2 separate regions of the Homo sapiens genome follow, and region 1 is linked to region 2. Evidence: fine-mapped expression QTL. Tissue or cell type: unexposed skin. Region 2 holds a variant in brackets; the other region holds the start of a gene. All regions are shown on one strand. Distances are between the middles of the regions.

The links. PIP is the estimated chance that this variant, and not a neighbour inherited with it, causes the effect.
Region 1: RCC2 starts here. The variant in region 2 is fine-mapped to the expression of RCC2 in unexposed skin (GTEx, PIP 0.94).

The regions. Positions count from the first base shown.
Region 1 is chr1:17,434,933-17,443,031 of GRCh38, forward strand. It overlaps RCC2 (regulator of chromosome condensation 2), which reads right to left and starts at 4,745. Exons shown (of 13, transcript NM_018715.4): 1 at 4,613-4,745; 2 at 3,298-3,590. The coding sequence starts at 3,582. LOC124903862 (a long non-coding RNA gene) reads right to left here and starts at 6,611. Exons shown (of 2, transcript XR_007065508.1): 1 at 6,526-6,611; 2 at 5,204-6,121. RefSeq lists silencers at 3,426-3,525, 4,845-4,984.
Region 2 is chr1:17,398,121-17,406,211 of GRCh38, forward strand. It overlaps PADI6 (peptidyl arginine deiminase 6), which reads left to right. Exons shown (of 16, transcript NM_207421.4): 15 at 566-727; 16 at 3,085-3,579. The coding sequence ends at 3,318. Among named protein-coding and RNA genes, the nearest start is that of PADI6, 30 kb to the left of the region's middle. RefSeq lists an enhancer at 2,715-3,651. The variant G/A (reference allele first, on the strand shown) is at 3,244.

The sequences.
Region 1 (8,099 bases), 37 kb after region 2:
ATCTCTACTGAAAATACAAAAATTACCGAGCACAGTGACAGGTGCCTGTCATCTCAGCTACTCAGGAGGCTGAGGCAGGAGAGTTGCTTGAACCCAGGAGGTGGAGGCTGCAGTGAGCTGAGATCACACCACTGCACTCCAGCCTGGGAGACAGAGCAAGACTCCATCTGGGGTGGGGGGTGCGGAAGAAGTCTGGTGTTGGTTGTTGAGTGTGGCCGTGAGAGCGGAGGAAAAAAGAATTTGAATTTTTTCTTAACACCTAGGCAATGACAACGCTCATCTGCCATAAGAATGTTCTATAAAATGCACATCTTTTACTCAAGGCAATTCTGCCCCTCAACAATGTAAGTATTTGGCTCATCTTCTACAAGCCCGACACCTGCAGCTTTGGGGTCACTGAAGGCAATATGGTTTTGGACATTTCCTGGGCGGCTGCTTTCACACAGACCTCCTCCTAGCAACCCTGAGCGGGGCAAGGCATGCAAAATGCTCAGTAAAAAAGGTTCTTTCTGCAACAAGGACTGCTGTCTGCCTGTGGCAGCACACAGGGTCCCTAGGACTGCTCAACAGAGAAACAGAGACCAGAAACCTGGGGCCAGGGAGACTGGGCAGGAGGCCAACCCAGGACAAGGGGCAGAGGGCTGCCCTAGGCCTATGGAAAGGCAATGGGGCTGCATGGACCCAGCCCCGAACATGGACCAAACTCAGTAGATGCTAACAAAACTTAAACGTGGGGCACTTTGGGAGGCCAAGGTGGGTGGACCACCTGAGATCAGGAGTTCGAGACCAGCCTGGCCAACGTGGTGAAACCCCGTCTCTACTAAAAATACAAAAAATTAGCCAGGTGTGGTGGTGGGCGTCTATAATCCCAGCTACTCGGGAGGCTGAGGCAGAAGAATTGCTTGAACCCGGGAGGCGGAGATTGCAGTGAGCTGAGATCGCAACATTGCACTCCAACCTGGGCAACAACAGCTAAACTCCAGCTCAAAAAAAAAAAAAAAAAAGCAAAACTTAAATGTAGGGTGTGCACTTTCCATGAGGCATAAAGGGGCATCATATGCTGAACCCTCAGCCTCCCAGGTGCTCTGATTCTAGAACAGCACCGACAGCCCAAAGGATGGGCATCATGGGCCCCTGTTGGTTTTAAGTGGATAGAGAAAGGAAGATGTAGCTTTTAGAGTCCTGCTTATACACATATGTAAAATAATAACGTATTTATGTGTATAAACAGGAACTTAAAAGCTGCAATGGACTGCTGTTTACTCACATTAAGACTTACAAACATGCAACCCAACACAGGGCTCGCGCCTGTCATCCCAGCACTTTGGAAGGAGGCTGAGGCAGGCAGATCACTTGAGGCCAGCAGTTTGAGACCAGCCTGGCCAACATGGTAAAACCCAGCCTCTACAAAAAGTACAAAAATTATTCGGGTGTGGTGGAACACACTTGTAATCCCAGCTGCTCGAGAGGCTGATCAGCACACAAAAATCACTTGAACCTGAGAGGCGGAGGTTGCAGTGAGCTGAGATCGTGCCACTGCACTCCAGCCTGGCCATAGAGGGAGACTCTGCCTCAAAAAAAAAAGACTAACAAATGTGCCATTTCCATTGACAAAGCAGCTTCAAGCAGCACAGCTGGAGACAGAGGTGGGCCAGGGAGAGCCAGTGTCCCTCACACACTCCCTGTCTCTACCTCCTTGGGTCAATCTCAGCATGGGGTAAGGATCTTTTGCTCTGATGGCAAAATTCAGCGTTCCAACAGTCTGGAGCTGTACAGCTGATAACTGCAGTCTTGGATGTCTAAACACAATCTTGCTTTTGGAAACTCACTCAAAATAGGATACAGGAGACGCGGAAGCTCACCTGGCCTTTCTTTTTAGTTTCATCCTAACATACTGTGTTCGGAGGGCAAATGTCTGGAGTCTGGCACAGCAGACTAGACGTCAAAGGAAAACAGTTCCTGTGTTCCAGTTTCTCAATACTTTGGCCATTGTCTAGTCTAGCCTGATCCAAGACCCCGGGCAAGACCTTTTGACAGCTTTTGACGGGCTCTCCTCCACTGCCTAACATGTTAACCCTTTCACCCAGAAGGCACTTTTACAAAGCATATTCCCATGTGCAATTTGCAGGGACATCAGGAGTTACAGCATTTGGAGATCCAGTTCCATCCATGACTTTGGACAAGGCCCTCGAATTCTGTGCCCCAGTTTCCCTATCTATAAAACGGACGTAGAAAATGTGTTATTAGACACTGCCTGCGCTTCTCTGGAGGAAAGCACTCTGCTGTTAACCCTTAAACACCCTTAGGAGATGGGCACTTATGGAAGGAAAAAAACCTCTCCGGGTGTCAGGCTCTACACCCCAGGTGGAAGTTCTTGCTCTCTGGGGGTTATCTGAGAATCTGGTGAAAACTTAGACCCTCTTCTGAAAAACATATCCCACACCACACCAAACTTAAAGAAAGTTCTGTGGGGGTGGGGAGATGCTGTGGCGGCAGATGCCGGGTTCAGATCTCCGGCTCTGCAGGCTTTTTCGGGAACGTTAACTTGAGTCAGCCACGACCTTAATTAAGATTTGAGAAAACAGAAGCCCGCCCAGGACCCTAGGAGATGCTTCTTCACTTGGGGGGGCTACAACAGAGCCCTCGCGAGCATCCTGCAGCTTCGGACCACCGGCGGCAAACAAAGCCCGAGCACCGCTCAGCCGGGGGGCTTCCCCGACCTCGGGGGAGGGCTCTGCGGAGCATGCGCGGCGGCCGTCAGGCCCCGCCCCCCCCGGGCGCCGGAGCCGAGGCGGCGGGAACCTCAAAGCCCCGGCGCAAACGGCCGCTCCCCGCAGAGCGCCGGCCGCCCCCTCCCCGCGGCGCCCGGGCGCAGCGGCGGCCACGGACGTGTGGGGCCCGCTGGCCGCCCCCTCTTCCAGGCCGGGCGAACTTACCGAGGTCCCCTTTCCCGGGGCGGGGGGGGAGGGGCGCAGAGGGAGCTGTGGGGGCGGGGCCATGACCCCCTCGTGCGGGCTTCGGCCGCCCCTCCCCCGCCGCGGGCCCGGGCGCGCGCCCCAACCGCCAACCGCCCGCGCGGTGCCCGGGGTCGGGTAGGCCGCGGGCCGCGCGCCCCGTACCGAGCCCTTTTGTTGCGCGGAGGCGGAGGCAATGATTCAGCCCGCGGCCTGCGCCGGCCCGGCCGCCGGGAGGGAGCGTGACGCGAGGCGGCCCCCGGCTGGAACGCGCGCCGTGCCGCGTCGCTGAGCCCGCCGGCCCCGGCCCTGCGCCCACCCGTCTACCCTGACCCTCACTCACGACGCGCTCCTTGGTGTGCTCGGGTTCGGTGATGACCACGGCCGCGCCGCCCGCCTTGCCTGCTGTCGCCGGCCGCGCCGCGCGCTTGCCCCCGCCGGGGGCCCCGTCGAGCTCCAGGCCGTCCTCGTCGCCGCTGCTGCCGCCGCCGCTGCTGCTACTGCAGCGCTCGGGCCGCTCGCGCTTCCTGCCCGCCGGGCCGCCGCGTTTCCTGGGCCCGGCGCGGGCAGTGCCGTTGCCCGAGCTCGGCTCCTCCCAGGCCGCCGCCGCCGCCTTCTTCCTGGGCATGGTCGCGGCTGGAGGGAGACACGGGGCAGCGGCGCACAATGGACGGGTTATAAACTGCGCGGGGGGAGGGGAGCGGAGACGAGCCACCCGGCCTCCACTTCCTCCTCTGCCCTCCCCAAAGTGGCGGCCGCAGGGTGGGCGGAGAGGGGGCGAGTTGGGAGAGGAAATCGCGCCCCTCCCTGGCCCCGGCGCGGCTCCTTCGGGGAATCCCGCAGGGCAGCCGGGAGCCCCAGAGGCAATCCCCTGGAGGGAGAATTGAGACCCCCGGCCTATCCGTAAGTTAGGTTTGCCCACAAAGCATCACAGTTGCAACCTCGCCCCCCAAAAGTAAAGGGAAAGTAAAACCAGCCTCCAGTCCCCTAGATTTTCATTAAAGAAGGCTTCGGGACACTTCCAGGATTCCCCCTTGGCACCTGGGTGGTAAGGGAGCCCCTGCTCCCCGGCTACCCCACCTGCTGCTTTTGTCTCCGCAGTCTCCCCCCAAACCCACTCATGGCATTTAATGCAACGCTCTCCCCCACCCCGCATCAGCCCTGGACCCCCGTTCGGCCCCAGCTCAGGGGTGCCGACCTCGGGCTCTAGTTAGCCGAATCCCTACGGCGGACTGCCCCCGGCGACGGGGGAAGAGCCCGAAGAAAGCTGGACCCCAGCCCCAAACACCTGCTCGCACAGACACGAAAAATAAAAACTTTAATGGTGCCCAACTCTCTCCCAGCCCCCTTGCCGGCCGTGCGGCCCGGCCGGTCTCCGATTCGACTGCAAAGTGTCCAGGGCCGCCGCCAGCTCCCCGGCGTCCCTGCGCTCTCCCCTGTCTGCTTTTTTTTTTTTTTTTAATTGATTTTGAACAATGGGATCTCTGTCTGTCTCCGATTAAACCACGTGGATCCGCCTTCCTTCCTCTTTTTATTCCTTCAATCACCCAGCCCCCCTCCCCCAGGTTTTTTTTTAACCTTTTCTCTTTAAAAAAAGGAAAAAAAAAAAAACTTTCCCAGACCCCACAAACTGATCACTGTCGATTTTCAGACCCTACCTGGTTGGAGTGATGAGAAACCGGAGAGAAAAAAGGAAGAGAAGCAACTAAAAGACGGATCGGAGGGCTTTTTTTTTTCCGGCCCAGACGAGGGCTCCAGCCCACTCACCAGATACACTTAAAATGTAAATACGAGCTTCCAGAACAAATGCTACAACACAAAACAGAAACACATGTGCGGCCGCGCGGCAAGCGAGCGCGCGGCGGGGCGGGAGGCGCGGGGCGCGGGGCGCGCGCGCCCCCTGCCGGCCGGCGGACCCGTTGCCGGCGCCCCCGCCCCGCCCGGCCTGGCCCTGCCCTGCCCACCCGAGCCTGCGCCGCGCGCCGCGCGCCTCGCCGCCCGCCTCGGCTCCGCTGCTCCTGCGCCTTTCGCGGGCCCGCGAGCGCGCTTTGGGCCTTCCACGCAGTGCGGCCTGCGCGTCAGGGACTTCTTTGCGGCTTAGGAGGATGTTGGATTGTTTTTCCTGGGCACGTCTAGACAGGTCACATGAGGACACTCGCTGGAAAATAGTTACTTCGCTCACGCAGCAGCCAACAAGGGACGTGCCCTAATTGAGTGATTGGAATGAAAGATGAATACAATTTGAATAATTTTTTCCTGTGCAGAGAGAAGCTGAGTTTTATTTGCCTGTGGATGTGTCCTCAGTATGTAACAAGGTGCTGTGACACGGAAGAATCACATAAAGGTTTGCTGTATTAGTGAATTAATTCATAATTAATTTGAGGGCCGTGGAGGCACTGGAAGCTGGCTTTGAGGGGAACTTTTTCATTTTTTGCCAAATATTTACTGAGCCCCCGGTACATGCAAGACCCACAGTGCCCGGGGCTGCAGAGCCAGTGAACAAGGTTTCCACCCCAGTGGAACGCACAGCCTAACGGAAAGACAGATCAGTAAACAAGTAATTACAACAGTGGTAAGCTTTACAAAGTGATGCCTGTGTAGGAACATTATGGCGAGGGGATTTATCCTAGTCCAGGGCCAGGGAAGGCATTCAGGTGGAAAGTTATGCTGAACAACTTAAAGGATGAATAAGACCCGATGAAAGGGGGCAGGAAAAGTATTCCAGGCCAGGTGGAGTGAACGGGACGCTCCACATTTCGAGATCTTGAGAGACACCTCCTGGGAGGGAAGCTGTCTGGTGGGGCTGGGGTGAGAAGAGCCAAGAGGCTGGGTTCTGAGGAGGTAGGCAGGGGTGCGAGGGCCTGCATAGACCCTAGTGAACCGCAGTGAGGCTTGATCTCGTTCGCGTGTCCTGGGACGGGTGAAAAAAGCCTTGCTTGCTTCCTACCGGTCTCCACCCTCCACCTCTCCACCCCACTTCCATTACGATCTCACCGTCACTTGCTCTCCTCTCAAAGCTTTTCTCCTGCTTCTTTTTTCCTGAGGCGTACCGCACAAGGAAGTTCCTTCTTCAGGCAACTTCTTGAAAACGCATAAAGTTCTAGGATTTTTGTGATTCATTCATTCATTGTTAGTGCAAGAAACAGGACTGGGAAGCATCAAGTGTCCTGTAAAGGAAGACAGAGAAACCAAGAGGCCCAAATCTAAGGTATTTGATCAAAGTCAAAAGTCTGTGTGTCAAGAGAGCTGAGAGTGCTTATGTAAAAGAACTTTGGAAATGAGAAATCAACTGGTACGTTTCAGAGATTTTCAGAAAAGTCAAGATGGAATAGAAGCACCCTTTGAAAGCCTATTCTTAATAGACCTGCATTTAAAAAGATTTTTTAGAGGTTAAACTTTGACGCTTTGATATAAAGCATAAGTAGAACCAACCAGAAAAGAATTTCGCCTAAATATGCCATCAAGTCCCCTTCAGGAAATGGCATGCTGATGCTTGTCAGCCGAGGCGGGTGGCTGGGTGTTTATCCTCTAAACACCCTGTGTGGCCAATTAGGAACACCACTGACAGTACCTTTAGATTTCAGTCTGCAAGTCTTTTCCTTTTTTCTCCTGCCCCTTTATAATGCTTTTTGCCAGCTTAAAAGACTCATGCCTCAGACACACTGATGCAATGAGACGCTAATATCATATTGCATCATCTGATCCTAGGTGTGGTGCTCCTGAAACTGGTTTTTCTTGAGGTTATGCTGCAGTAGAAAAGCACTTTGGGTATAACACCCTGGAACTGGCCCTACTTGTCAGAAGACAAAAGTAATTTTTGCAACTCCATGCCTCAATTCCACACCACTATTCTCCCAGGGAAAGCCTGCGTGACTCTCCCGGCTGGAATTGGGTGTGCAACAGACATTCATCAGTTAGGCGTGTCATGCTGCCACTTATGTAACAAATGTTACATAGTGAGGTGCACCTACAGGCAAGCTGAAAATGACACTTCCTCCTTCAAACTGTGCTTGGAATTTCACCTCGCTTCTAATTGAGCAAATTCTCCAGGGACAGGATGGTTTGGTGCAAAACCGGGAGAGGGGAAGGGAAAGAAGGTGGCTGAGATTTCTCTGACACTTTGAGGCACAGGTGTCTGGCACTGTGCTGAGCATTTTACACCCAGAATTTTGGAAATGTGGCTGCAAGTGCCAGCCTGCCGTCACTCTTTAACCTCATCTTCAGCAAAATCATATTGCAAGTTAGATTCAGCTACGCTTAAGTTCTTTTCCAGGGGTGAGGTGTGATTTTTTCTTTCTTTTTTTTTTTTTTTTTTTTATTTTTTTAGATAGAATCTTGCTCCTCCAGCACCCAGGCTGAAGGGTGATGGTATGATCCCAGCTTACTGCAGCCTCTACCTTCCTTGCTCAAGCGATCCTCTCGCTTCAGCCTCCCAAGTAGCTGAGACCACAGGCATGGACAGCTACACTTGGCTAAATTTTTTTTCTTTTTTAATGTTTTGTAGAGACAAGGTCTCTCTCTGTTGCCCAGGCTGGTCTCGAGTGGTCCTCCCACCTCAGCCTCCCAAAGTTGCGGGATTATAGGGGTGAGCCACTGTGCACAGCCTCAGAAGTATAATTCATTTTTTTTTTTCTTTTGAGGTGGGGTCTCGCACTGTCACCCGGGCTGGAGTGCAGTGGTGGCAACCTCCACCTCCCAGGTTCAAGCAGTCTCCTGCCTCAGCCTCCCAAGTAGCTGGGATTACAGGCGCATACCACCACGCCTAGCTAATTTTGTATTTTTAGTAGAGACGGGGTTTCACCATGTTGGCCAGGCTGGTCTTGAACTTCTGACCTCGTGATTTGCCCGCCTTCGCCTCCCAAAGTGCTAGGATTACAGGCGTGAGCCACTGTGCCCAGCCTCAGAAGTGTAATTCTATTCAACTTGGCTACAGAAAGCTACACCTGTACTTGAAAGATTAATTTTCTGATCCAGTGTCTATAAAAATGAAACCAGTGATCCTGGGAGTGATGCGCTAACCAATGGAAACGATTCTTTCTCTTTTTTTTTTTTTGGAAACTGGGTCTCACTCTGTCACCTAGGCTGGACTGTAGTGGCGCCATCTTGGCTCACTACAGCCTCGACCTCCTGGGGTCAAACAGTTCT
Region 2 (8,091 bases):
AACTGCTTCTCTCACTGGGTCCTTAACATTCCCAGGAATGTTCCCAAGGAATGTTCTATGCCCCGCACAGTGCATGGGTACCCTGTTTTGCAAGAACAGCCCCCCTGGCATAGCAGGGTGGGTGCCAGCCAGGCATGGGGCTGAGACAGCATCTCCCAGCCCCTGGCGACAGCTTAGGTGTGTTGGGTATGTGTCTGAAGCCTATTTCAAGACCTAGGGAGACAGGTGTGTTGGGTTATGTCTGAAGCCTATTTCAAGACCTAGGGAGATGCCTGGGTATTGGGCTCAGCTGGTCTGGGTTGAGAAGTGCCAGACGCTGTCTAGCCATGGGATCCTGGACTAAAGACTAGGCCATTCCTGAGCCCCTACTTCCCCATGTGAAAAGGGAACTGCCTATTTCGTAAGGCTGGTATGAAGTGTGAGGCTCCTGGCACACAGCAAGTGATGGGGATGGTAGTGGTGTCAGGCCATCACCTACCTTCAGTATGGAAGGAAACTGGTTTTAATTCCTGATGAGCTCTCCTTGCTCCCCCGCCCCCCCCCCCACCCACCCACCCACCCACAGAAGTGCATTCACCTGAACCGTGACATCCTGAAGACGGAGCTGGGCCTGGTGGAACAGGACATCATCGAGATTCCCCAGCTGTTCTGCTTGGAGAAGCTGACTAACATCCCCTCTGACCAGCAGCCCAAGAGGTCCTTTGCGAGGCCATACTTCCCTGACCTGGTGAGGGGCGACTGCGCATCCCTGGGTGGGGGAGGGCCTGTCCAGGCAACACTGGCTGCCACCTCACTGTGCTGGACTGCAGATATGGTGGACAGCAGATAACGGTACCTATGAGGAAATGGGAGGGAGACCCCTTCTCCCCCATCTCGGTTAGGGACGCCCCACCCAGAGAGCAAGTGTACAGGGCCTGAAGGCTTGGAGGTTCCCCAGGCAGTTACTATGGGCCAGGCCCTGGGCCAGGTGCTTTAGGAGCCTCAGTGAGCTGCGCCCCCAGTCTAAAAGGGTGAACCTGTGAGGCCCACTTCGGATGGGGTGCTATGCAACCCAGAGTCGAGGTTGCCGCGCATCTGCCAGCAGCGAGGCCTTGAGCAACCTACCTCAGGGTGGGTCTTCCTGTCCGCTATCTCCAGGGTCCAGGGCAGCAGTGTCTGATACATAGAGGTACATCAGCCCTTAAAATAACATTCTAGGCCAGGCGCAGTGGCTCATGCCTGTAATCCCAACACTTTGGGAGGCCGAGGCAGGTGGATCACCTGAGGTCAGGAGTTTGAGACCAGCCTGACCAACATGAAGAAACCCTGTCTCTAAAAATACAAAATTAGTTGGGTGTGGTAGCACATGCCTGTAATCCCAGCTACTCAGGAGGCAGAGACAGGAGAATTGCTTGAACCCCGGAGACAGAGGTTGCATTGAGCCTAGATCACTCCATTGCACTCCAGCCTGGGCAACAAGACTGAAACTCCGTCTCTAATATTTATTCTGCTTGGCTGGTCGTGGTGGCTCACCTGTAGTTCTAGTACGTTGGGAGGCTGAGGTGGGAAGATCACTTGAACTCAGGAGTTGGAGAGCAGCTAGGGCAACATAGTGAGACCCTGCAACTTTAAAAAAAAGAAAAAAAAAATGCTGGGGCCAGGGTGCAGTGGCTCATGCCCGTAATCTCAGCACTTTGGGAGGCTGAGGTGGGTGGATCACTTGAAGTCTGAAGTTCGAGATCAGCCCTGCAAACATGGTTGAAACTCTCTAGTAAGAATACAAAAAACTAGCTGGGTGTGGTGGTGCATGCCTATAATCCCAGCTAATCAGAGGCTGAAGCAGGAGGATCCCTTGAACCCAGGAGGCAGAGGTTGCAGTGAGCCAAGATTGCACCACTGGACTCCAGCCTGGGCAACAGCAAGACTGTCTCCCAAAAAAACAAACAAAACAAAACAAAAAATGCTGGGTGTGGTGCCACATGCCTGTAGTCTCAGCCACTCAGGAGGCTGAGGCAGGACAATTTCTTGAGCCCCGGAGGTGGAGGCTACAATGAGCCACTGCACTCTAGCCTGGGTAACAAACCAAGACCTTGTCTGATAAACCAAACCAAAAAAAAAAAAAAACATTCTGGGGCTGGGCGTGGTGTCTTACACCTGTAATCCCAGCACTTTGGGAGGCCCAGGCAGGCAGATCACTTGAGGTCAGGACTGCGAGACCAGCCTTACATGGAGAAACTGTCTTTACCAAAAATACAAAATTAGCCAGGTGTAGTGGTGCATGCCTGTCATCCCAGCTACTCAGGAGGCTGAGGCAGGAGAATCGCTTGAACCTGGGAGGTGGAGGTTGCAGTGAGCGGAGATCACCCTGTTGCACTCCAGCCTGGGCAACAAGAGCAAAACTGTTTTGTTTTTTTGTTTGTTTGTTTTTGTTTTTTAAATTCTGTTCCTACTTATTCTAAACCAGAAGTTATAGTCAAGAGTGGGGCTGTGAGTACAAGAGGTCCTGGCTTCACCAAGCCTATGCCGACTGTGGCTCACATCTGAACTTTCTCATGTAACAACTGACCCCTTATATAGGTGTGTAAAATGAACTGAGGCATTTGAGTGCCCCAATTCTCTAAACACCTGCTGACCTCTTCCCTGGGTCCTAGGGACACAGGCCCTGCATGCTCCAATTGTACATGGGTGTCTTCTAACTTGATCAGCTCAGTGTGGTCCGGCAGGGGTGAGTAACGGTAAGAAGCTGCTTTGAGGAGGAGTTGAGATACAAAAGATGCGCAGCAGTCAACTGACAAAGCGGGGGTGGGGAGAGTGTTTCAGTGGAGGCAGCAGCCATGTGTTGTATCCAGGTGACAAGAGGCCAGAATAATCGAAACGTAGAAACTAGAGAAGTTGACAATCCCAGACCTTGGCCAGGCAGGATTTTATCTGGCTGTTGAGAAACAGCCATTGTAGGGCTAAGCAAAAGTGAGCTGGGTTTCACTGACCTGGAGGAGGCGGCTGCCTGCCTGCTACGCCTGGTCTGACCGCAGAGAGGCAGGTGGGCGGCTGGCTTTCAGGCCTCTGATCCCTGTCCAGGCCTCACCCACCCTGTCTTTCTAACAGTTGCGGATGATTGTGATGGGCAAGAACCTGGGGATCCCCAAGCCTTTTGGGCCCCAAATCAAGGGGACCTGCTGCCTGGAAGAAAAGATTTGCTGCTTGCTGGAGCCCCTGGGCTTCAAGTGCACCTTCATCAATGACTTTGACTGTTACCTGACAGAG[G/A]TCGGAGACATCTGTGCCTGTGCCAACATCCGCCGGGTGCCCTTTGCCTTCAAATGGTGGAAGATGGTACCTTAGACCCAGGCCCTGGAGCTGCCAGCTCTGCCCCAGCGTGGATGGCCCACTGTCACCATGCAACAGCATGATTCTTTGCCCAGTAGAGGAGGCTGGAGAGTCCAGGCAACAGAACCCTTTCTTCCCTGTCTGCCCCGACCGACCCTCGGACCCAGTAGGATGGCAAATGCCGCCAGCTTGAACCCCTATGGGGAAAAGATGCAAAAGTGTTCAGCCAAGTGACGTTTACTAAATAGCCAATAAAGGGCTGGTGGGTGTGAATGCATCTTGGCAGTGACCTCCTTGTTTGGGGAGGGGATAAGTGACAACTGAGGACAAGGCTGAGCTGAGATACCTATGGCCATGCTGGCCTGCTTGTGTGGGGGGAGAGACTTGGCTACATCAGTTGCTGTCCTTCCCCTCATCTCTAAATTATGTCGTGGCAGGAAGTGGTTGGACTTATCCAAATGGACTTAGATTATCCAAATGGATTTAAGATTATCCAAATGCTGCTCTGGTTTAAGCAACTGGGACAAGCTGGGTCTAGAGTCCAGGGCCCAGGCTAGAGGAAGGTCGAGGGCCTCCCCCTTGGGACTGGTAGGACCTGGAGGGGGCAGGCCCACGGTGGGGGTGGTGCCATGCACGGCAGGCAGCTGGCCTCAGCAAGTGGAGGCTCTGGTCTCCTTGGGTCTGTAGGTGTGGCCTCTTTGAGAAGGCACAGCAGGGGTGGACCTGGGCTGACCCTCAGCCTGAAATGTCCCCTCCAGGGCCCAAAGCCACATATTCCCATCTGACCACCCCTGTGTTAATGGTACAGGGATGCTGTTAAGCTTTAACTGGCGCTGTGGCTCCCACCCTGCTCCTCCTGGATGATGATGACTCTAGGACACTCTAATCCTCAGGGTAGAACCTGAGAAGGGAGCCCTGTGTCCATGTCCCACAGGGAGTTGAAGGCAGAGCTGGGCCTCAAACTAGCCCCCTTCCTAACACCTGGGGCTCTGTGGGCAGCAGGCAGGACCTGGCCAGCCTCTGCCAGCTGCTGGGGCAGTGGAGGAGGGTCATCCTAAGGAAGCGAGGCAGAAGCCAGGGTTGGGGCAGCAGGGCTGGTCTCTGGATCAGATGTGGGTTTTTATCCAAGAGCTGTGCCCTGGTGTGCCAGCTACCCCAGGACATCTTACGACATCTCGTTAACCTGCCCATGGTGGTGCAGAGTTTATGGACTACACTAGAGACCTCTTGTTGTATTCATGGCTCTGACCCCTATACCAGCCTGGGACTGACACAGACCAGGCCTTCAAATATGGGGAGGGATGGATGAGCTCATCTGCATTTTCAGATAGTCTAGAAAAGCCAAAAGAAATAGAGGACTCTGGACCCCAAGGGCTTGGGGCTCCATCTCTAGGGAAAAAGGGGAGAGGAAAGCCCTAGGGCCAGAAGGGGGACAAAAGGTTCACTCTTCCACCCCCATGGGCTTTTCCCAGGGAACTTGCCCACCTCTACCAAGGGCTGCCTTAGGGTGGATGAATTGGTCCCTCCTCTGACCCTAACTAGACCCTCACCCAGAGCTTTTCAGGTCAGCCCTGGGCCCCTCCCGCCCCACCTGCCTAAGGGTCCTGCAGGAAATCTTGGCAGCTTGACACCCTTCTCTCCTGTTACCTCCCAGGCAGCACCATCCTGATAGCACCTGGAGAAGCACCCCCCCAGCCCTGGCTGTTAGCAGACACCTGCAGCAGAGAGCTGGGTGTACTTGGCTTGCACAGTGTTATAAACGTCTCTAAGTTAGGCACTGACAATTTACTCAAAGTCTGGATTTCCAGCTCCTGCTGCCAAGTCTTTAGACCTGACCACACTGGGCCCGAGGCTGAAGACTCACTGGCCACACCCTCTAGACAAAGATGTGCTCCAACAGGCCCCAGTCCCCATCCCTCCCCACTGTGTTCCCCTGCAAAGGTCAGTGGTCATTTGGCGCCATGCTTGCACTACTGCTGTAGGGAAGGAGAGGAAATGCTCCCTGTACTGGCCAAAGGCAAGAAAACAAGGTAAGTGGGCTCTGTGCCTCAGTTTCCTCACCAGCGCAAGTGGGTAAGAGTTGTGCCTGTCTCGAGGTTGTTCTGAGGACTGGAGTTATTTACATAAAGCCCTAGAAAGACACGTGGCACCTCTCATTCCTGAAGGCTGGGAGACCACATCTCTGTAGAAGTAAACAAAACCCTCCATTGCCTGCATAGCAGACACGGGGCCAGGCGCAGTGGCTCATGCCTGCAATCCCAGCACTTTGGGAGGCTGAGGCAGGTGGATCATTTGAGGCCAGGGCTTCAAGGCCAGCCAGGCCAACATGGGGAAACCCCGTCTCTACTAAAAATGCAAAAATTAGTCGGGGCATTGTGGCATGCACCTGTAATCCCAGCTACTTGGGAGGCTGAGTGGCTGAGTTGAGAGAATCACTTGAACCCAGGAGGCAGAGGCTCCAAGATCATGCCACCGCACTCCAGCCTGGGCAACAGAGTGAGACTTCGTCTCAAAAAAAAAAAGAACAAAAATCACAGGAAATGCTGGCGGGGTGGGGGGTGGGTGGGAGAGTGCTGGGGACCCAGTGTGGGGGCAGCTGAGGGTTTTGGAGATTCCAGCCCTCCCATGTGCCTCCCAACCTGCAACAGGCCATCTTTTAGTTCTCTAGAGGCACCGAGTCCTCTCCCCTCCAGGCTGCTTCAGTGCCCAGAATGCTTTTAGCAGGGGGCGACCCCCATTTCCCTTCCAAAGCCTTGAAGGGGCTGTTCCTGTCTCCCCTTCCCTCCTCCCTGCATCCCTGCCTACTGAGTCCTCCCAGTCTGGAGAGTGGGCTCCATTGCTATTGTCTGGTGTGAACACCAGCTAAGCTGGATCCTGAGACCCTCCAGCTTGACCATCCCGCGTGGCGCTTCCGCAGGTCCCCGCCCTTCAATGTGGGGCTGGGGCAGGTGTTCGGGGCAAAGCAGGGCTGGGTAGGAACCGGCAAGTCCCCTTCCCCATTCGCCATCCTTCCAGCCCTTTTCACTCTTCCCTGGGAGCTTAAGGAGCCGCTTAGTGTGGAGGACATTGGCCAGAAAGGCTGCTGGCTTGACGGGGCAGGACAATAGCAGGAGGCAGCAGCTTTGCAGGTGAGAAAACCCCAGAGCCAAAGGCCGGGCACGGTGGCTCATGCCTGTAATCCTAGCACTTCGGGAGGCTGAGGTAGTGGGAGGAATCACCTGAGTTCAAGAGTTCAAGACCAGTCTGGTCAACATGGTGAAACCTCATCTCTACTAAAAATACAAAGAAATTAGCCGGGTGTGGTGGCCTGTGCCTGTAATCTTAGCTATTCAGGAGGCTGAGGCAGGAGAATTACTTGAACCTGGGAGGAGGAGGTTGCGGGGAGCCAAGATTGTGACACTGCACTCCAGCCTGGGGGACATTAAAAAAAAAAAACCTCCAGAGCCGCCCGTGGGGAGCCTGCCTTCTCTGCCCCCCCGACTTCAGGAGGCTTCTCCCATCCCCCAGCCACAGGCCTGGCAGGCCCCGGCTGCTCTGTATTGGCCACCTACACTGCCCCTGGAAGGGCAGGTGAAGGTCTCCTGGATGTTCTCGAAGCTCTCAAGACAGCCCCTCCAGGGTGGCCACAGGTCACATGGGCTCCCTGTCCTCAGCCAGGGGCAGGCTGGGGGAGCAGGGGAGGCCATCTTTGTTACTAGGATCTTTGTGGTTCCAGGCACAGGTCTTCCTACCCGCCCCACTGTGTCCCTCAGCCAAAGCCATTTTCTCTCTGCACCCCACTTCCCTCTATAACACAGGAATAAAAAACAAACAGCCTTCCCTTCAAGACTGCCTGTGTGGCCGGGCGTGGTGGCTCACGCCTGTAATCCTAGCACTTTGGGAGGCTGAAGCGGGCAGATCACTTGAGGTCAGTTTGAGACCAGCCTGGCCAACATGGTGAAACCCCGTCTCTACTAAAAATACAAAAATTAGCAGGGCGTGGTGGCACTTGCCTGTAATCCCAGCTACTCAGGAGGCCGAGGCAGAATTGCTTGAACCCAGGAGGCAGAGGTTGCAGTAAGCAGAGATCACACCACTGCACTCCAGCCTGGGCGACAGAGCAAAGCTCCATCTCAAAAATACAAGACCGAGCGCGGTGGCTCATGCCTGTAATCCCAGCACTTTGGGAGGCGGCCAAGGTGGGAGGATCACGAGGTCAGGAGTTCGGGACCAGCCTGGACAACATGGTGAAACCCCATCTCTACTAAAAATACAAAAATTAGCCAGGCATGTGGTGGACACCTGTAATCCCAGCTACTCAGGAGGCTGAGGCAGGAGAATCGCTTGAACCCAGGAGGCAGAGGTTGCAGTGAGCTGCGATTATGCCACTGCACTCCAGCCTGGGTGAAAGAAACTCAGTCTCCAAAAAGACTGTCGGAGTGGACTGCAGGAGTCAGGGGCGAGACACACGACACTCAATTTGCAGCATGTGCCCAATACACAACAGCCAGTGTGTCAGCAGGGACGCTGCCCCCAGCAGTGGCTTCCCTGCCCACGGGGGCTCTTCCAGGGCAGGAGCATCTGATGGGAAGCTCCAAGCTGCCAAGGGGGGAGATGGGGAAACACCGTGTTTTACATTTGGACTGTCCTGCAACAGTGCACATGCTCCTTCTGCAGCTAACAGGCCATGGGAGACCGTTTCCTCCTCTCCCAAACTGGGCCAATGCCTGCCAGGAGGGGCTGGTCTGGACACTATTCAGCCAGTCAACACAAGGTGGCCTGCACTCGAGGTTCCAGGGATCCCAGGCA